Linked DNA regions of Homo sapiens: region 1 is linked to region 2. Evidence: fine-mapped expression QTL. A gene starts in region 2. The other region holds a variant in brackets. All regions are shown on one strand. Distances are between the middles of the regions.

Region 1 (2,905 bases), 23 kb before region 2:
CCACGCCCGGCTAAATTTTGTATTTTTAGTAGAGATGGGGTTTCTACATGTTGGTTAGGCTGGTCTCAAACTCCTGCCCTCAGGTGATCCGCCCGCCTCGGCCTCCCAAAGTCCTGGGATCACAGGTGTGAGCCACTGCACCTGGCCTCATTCAAGAGTTTTTACTGATATATTTTTTAAATCAAAGAATTATAATATACTATTTGGCAACTTGTTTTCCTCACTTAACCATGTAGCTAGGAGTTATTTCCAGGTCACTATGCCCAGTGCTACCTTCTTCTGCCTAAGGGTTTCATAGTATGCCGCAGCATGGACACTGCGCAATTCACTTAACCAATGTCTTATTGATGGATATTTGGAGTGTTTCCAGTTTTCGATATTTGGAGTGTTTCCAGTTTTCCACGATCATATTCGCTTTTTGCACATTCTTTTCTCTTTATAATTCAGAACCATCAAGCTGAAGCCCAGCAGGGCTTCCTCATTTCATCATCATAGCTCATTTCCTATTGAGCAAAGCTTCTTCCTCGGGTCAGCTCTTGCCACACTTCTTTCTACAGAAACAAGAAGTGGAGTTATCTGTCCTGGGCTTCGGGAGTGAACACACCCATTCCCACGCTGCTGCTGCCCACGCTGCTTTGCCCACACAGCACCACTGTCCCTGGGGATCCTGAATAACAATCTGCTGAGCAAAATCAACATCCCTTTGGCTACAGCGAGGCTAATTGCACTTAATAGGTTGTAAGAGTTCTGGTACAGACAGGCTCCTTCCCATGATGTATTTCACCACCTCATTGAAGAGATGTGTGTTCCAGTGAGAGTCTGTTCCTCCGTGTCATCCCAACAAATGCTCCTATGTCCAGGAGCCATTGTCAGGAATGCTCGTTCCTCTCCCTTCTACACAGACAAATCTCCCTTTGAGGACACACTCAACTCCAACTCCTTTTGTGAAGCTTTCCCTGTTGCTCCAGCCTGCATGAATCCTTCCCTCCGCCGAATTTCTTCAGCAAGAATGCCTTCTAGGCCAGGCACGGTGGCTCATGCCTGTAATCCCAGCACTTTGGGAGGCCGAGGCGGGCAGATCACCTGAGGTCGGGAGTTCGAGACCAGCCTGACCAACATGGAGAAACCCTGTCTCTACTAAAATACAAAATTAGCTGGGTGTGGTGGTGTGTGCCTATAATCCTAGCTACTCAGGAGGCTGAGGCAGGAGAATCACTTGAACC[C/G]GGGAGGCGGAGGCGGAGGTTGTGGTGAGCTGAGATGGCGCCACTGCACTCCAGCCTGGGCAACAAGAGCGAAACTCCATCTGAAAAAAAAAAAAAAAAAAAAAAAAAGAATGCCTTCTAAGTGCATAGCACCTGTGTGAGGGTGAAACCCTGGCCCACAGAGCCAGTGGTCGTAGGATAGTTAAAATAGAAGGCCACAGTATATTGGGAGGCCAAGGCGGGCGGATCACGAGGTCAGGAGATCGAGACCATCCTGGCTAACATGGTGAAACCCCGTCTCTACTAAAAATACAAGAAATTAGCCGGGCGTGGTGGCGGGCGCCTGTAGTCCCAGCTACTCGGGAGGCTGAGGCAGGAGAATGGCGTGAACCTGGGAGGCGGGGCTTGCAGTGAGCAGAGATCGTGCCACTGCACTCCAGCCTGGGCGACAGAGCAAGACTCCGTCTCAAAAAAAAAAAAAAAAAGGCCATAGTATATCAGAATTCCATAGAAATAAGATTATTACAAAAAGCCTATAAGCAGAGAGACACTGGAATATACTGAAGCTAGTATGAGCAAAAGGGAATTGTGGGTTGGAACACCAATACCCACAGCAACAGTGAAGGAAAGCAAAAGCCTCGCACAGCGCTTCTCAAAGTGTGGTCTGGGGGCTTGTTAGAAATGCAATTTCTTGGCCAGGCGCAGTGGCTCACACCTGTAATCCCAGCACTTTGGGAGGCCAAGGCAGGCGGATCACCTGAGGTCAGGAGTTCAAGACCAGCCTGGCCAACACGGCAAAACCCTGTCCCTACTAAAAATATAAAAATTAGCCAGGCGTGGTGGCACACGTCTGTAATCCCAGCTACTCAGGAGGCTGAGACAGGATAATTGCTTAAACCTGGGAGGTGGGAGTTGCAGTGAGCTGAGATTGCGCCACTGCACTCCAGGCTGGGTGACAAGAGCGAGACTCTATCTCAAACAAATTAAAAAAAGAAAAAGGAAAATAAATGCAAATTCTTAGGCTCCACCCCAGACTTACTGAATCAGAAATTCTGGGGGTGGAACGCAGCAATCTGCGCTATCGTGAGTCCCACAGATGAGTCTGGTGCATGCTGAAGTCTAAGAACCACTAGCTTGAGTAGAGATTCAAAGTTTGGGTCTCTAGCACAGAAAGACTTTTGCAACAACGAGTCTCGGGAGGCGTAAAGCAAGCAGAGAGGACTGCAGCTGTTAAAAGTAGTCCTAAGAAGATTCTAGGTAGGAGAACTCAAGCGTGGGGAGCTGGGAAACCCCAGCTGGCAGGGAGGGGTCCTACCTGGCGAGCTGCCCCCCAAGGGCCTGCGCTGGTCAAGTGTCTCCCGAAGGGTCTGCCTGCGGGCAGGAGAAACACAGGTGTCCAGGACTAGTGTTCTGACTGATACGTGGCCCTAGGATTTCTCTCCTGGGACCACTTGGAGAGGCAACCCTTGGCTGCCAGAGGAAGAGACTGATGGAGGCAGCAGGACGGGAGGAAGGCCTGTGGGAGGAGGGTGCCAGAGTGGGAAGGGAGCATGTGAGGAGAGTCTTGATGGTTAATGCCAATTACCTCTAGAAAATTACCAGGCTTTACAGACTCAAGAGCTACTACCCAAAAGATTGAAAAAACTGCCTTAAAAAAAAAAAAAGCAACCCACCCCAGGGAAGAGAGAGAGCTATTTAGAAAA
Region 2 (2,905 bases):
AAAAAAAAACTACTTTAAAAAATTACTGTGCTCTACCTCTAATCTGATGCAATGAGCTCACACCATTTCTCCTTCTTTTCCTTCTCTTTTCTTGCTTTTTTTTTTTTTTTAACGAATACTATTCCCAATTCACCTAACTAAAATTTGATGTTAGTAAACTACAACCTACGGGGCACATATAAACTCCACACACTGAAGCAATGGCTGTACTCGTCAAAGATGTATGCAGTTGGTACTCAAATAATGTAGTTTTTTTTTTACTAGACTCTTTTTAAAATTTAACTTTAATTTTTGCTAAAGTAATGTTTGTATTTGGAATATAAAATAATTCTATGAGGCTTATAACAACAAACTATCGTCCTTGGCCCTACTCCTCTTCATAGGGAGCCAGACTGAATTTTAAAAGGCATATCTTCCAAAATTTCTCTCTCCATTTCTTAAGAAACATGCTTATACTACCATTTTCAGTTTTTTTTTTTCTTTTGAAACAGAGTCTCCCTCTGTCGCCTAGGCTGCAGTGCAGTGGCGTGATCTCCCCTCGCTGCAACCTCCGCCTCCTGGGTTCAAGCGATTCTCGTGCCTCAGCCTCCCGAGTAGCTGGAATTACAGGTGCCTACCACCATGCCCAGCTAATCTTTGTATTTTCAGTAGAGACGGGGTTTCGCCATCTTGGCCAGGCTGGTCTCGAACTCCTGACCTCAGGTGATTCGCCCAAAGTGCTGGGGCTATAGGCGTGAGCCACCTGCCCGGCTATTTTCAGTTTTGGATAGTATGTTTTGACATACACTCTGTTTCCTCTTTGAGACACCCGCTCTAGAGCCCTCTATTCCACTCCAAGCCGCCTGGATGCTCTCTTGGCCTGCTTACAGATTCCACTCTGTTTAGGAAGAAGGACGGCACGTTTATCCAATTATTCTTCCTGGACACGAATACTCCTCTCCCCAGAGATCAGTAACTGCCCACAATCTTGTTAGGAAGCCCCACAGCACCTAAGGGTACGAATGTCCCCAAAGAGTAGACGATTCTCTCCCTACTCACGTCTCCACTAGTGCAAGGCTGGCTTTCTTACCCTTAGAGGAATACAGAAATGACATCGTCTGCAGGCCAACGTCTAAACAACCAGGAGTGGGTTTTTCCACCCAACCGCAGTGCACGCAAAGCCCCTAAGCCGACTGTGAGACCGGGCGGAGCCTGGCGCTGCAGGAAGAGGCGACAGCCACAGCCCTACTGACGAGCCCGAGGGGTGAACTCCCCGGCGGGAGGCCCGAACCCTCAAACACCGGGAAGCGGAGGTGGGGGCCGGCTGGGGGACCGGTCCACCGGCTCCCACCTCGGCGTACAGGGATTCCAGGTCCCGGCGAGCGCTGGCCTAGCGGTTTCCACAGCGACAGGCCGGGCGCGCGTCCCCGCGCGTGCGCAGCTCCTCGCCCGCCCCCGGGTGGGCGGAGCAAGGAACAGCTGGGCGGGGACGACCGCCCCACGCCGCGCGGGAACCCTTGGGGGCCGGGGCTGCAGGCAGCTGGGAACCGCGGGCGCTAGGCGCGCGCACCCAGCACTCGGTCCCAGCCGATAAATCTGGGGCAGCGCGCGGTAGGAGCTGCGGGCGGCCAGGCCCCTTCCTGCGTCCGCACCTGGCCCCGCGCGCCCCTCTCGGGCGTCCGGCTTCCGGCGTCCTGGCGGCTCGGGTGGCGGCGGTTCGGGCGGCCGCCTGGCTGCTCCTCGGGGCGGCGACCGGGCTCACGCGCGGGCCCGCCGCGGCCTTCACCGCCGCGCGCTCTGACGCCGGTAAGGGGGGCGGGGCTTGGGGGGCCAGAGCGTGGGAGCGGTCCCGGCTCCCGGGCCTCTCGGCGGGTTGCGGGGATGTGGGGACCCGGCGCGGGACCTAGATCAGTAGGGCGAGCCGGAGGAGGTCAGACACTAGAGCCGTGTGCCCTCCTTCCCTCCCGTGCGCTTTGCTCTGCGGCGGATCCCGGGTCTCCGGGAGAGTCGGGCTCGGGCCCTGCGGTTCCCAGGCTGGACTGGCCGCCCTGTTACTAAAGTTCTGAGAAGGAAAGTCAGCCGTCAAGCGTCTTGGGATGCTCTTGAGCTGCACGAAGCTTCTGATCACCAAGGGGCCAGGCAAGGCCTTAGCGCCCTGTGAGGCCTGAGAATCCCCAAACTGAATGTAGGACTCCGTGGCAAACTGCTAGTTGTTCGTGCAAGTAGTAGTTGGCAAACTGCTTGTACTACTGAGACGGGCAAGTGCGGGAATAATTACAATAAAGGGTAAGGTTTGATGGGAGGAAAGCACAAACCCTACAAGTTTCTCCATCTGTAAAATGAGGATGTTTCTGTCATCCTTGGTATCATTTAGATCCGTTTAGTATCTGTCAATCAGTGCAGTTCTGCTTGTGTGTTTACATATTGGGTTTTCAAGTTTATCTAAACAAAGGATTATGAGGCCAAGAAGATTTTTTTTTTGAGATGGAGTCTCACTCTGTTGCCAGGCTGGAGTGCAATGGCGCGATCTCGGCTCACTGCAACCTCCGCCTTTCCCAAGTTCAAGCAATTCTTCTGCTTCAGCCTCCCAAGTAGCTGGGATTATTACAGGTGCCCGCCACCATGCCCAGCTAATTTTTTGTATTTTTAGTAGAGACGGGGTTTCGCCGTATTGGTCAAGCTGGTCTTGAACTCCTGACCTCAGGTGGTCCACCCTCCTCAGCCTCCCAAAGTGCCAGGATTACAGGTGTGAACTACCATGCTCGGCCAGAAGAATTTTTAAACAGTTGGATTTGGTAATCTGTAGAGGCTTCCAACGTTAGCATTTTATAATTGAAAAGGGGTCAAAATTAGCGGGGCGTGATGGCGTGCCCCTGTAGTCCCAGCTACTCAGGGGGCTAAGGCAGGAGAATCGCTTGAACTAGGG

Evidence for each region. PIP is the estimated chance that this variant, and not a neighbour inherited with it, causes the effect.
Region 1: its variant is fine-mapped to the expression of CEP19 in whole blood (TOPMed, PIP above 0.99).

The regions. Positions count from the first base shown.
Region 1 is chr3:196,687,921-196,690,825 of GRCh38, forward strand. No RefSeq gene overlaps it. Among named protein-coding and RNA genes, the nearest start is that of CEP19, 23 kb to the right of the region's middle. The variant C/G (reference allele first, on the strand shown) is at 1,224.
Region 2 is chr3:196,710,860-196,713,764 of GRCh38, forward strand. It overlaps CEP19 (centrosomal protein 19), which reads right to left and starts at 1,391. Exons shown (of 3, transcript NM_032898.5): 1 at 1,070-1,391. It overlaps PIGX (phosphatidylinositol glycan anchor biosynthesis class X), which reads left to right and starts at 1,518. Exons shown (of 6, transcript NM_017861.4): 1 at 1,518-1,785. The coding sequence starts at 1,674. RefSeq lists silencers at 1,141-1,453, 1,288-1,917.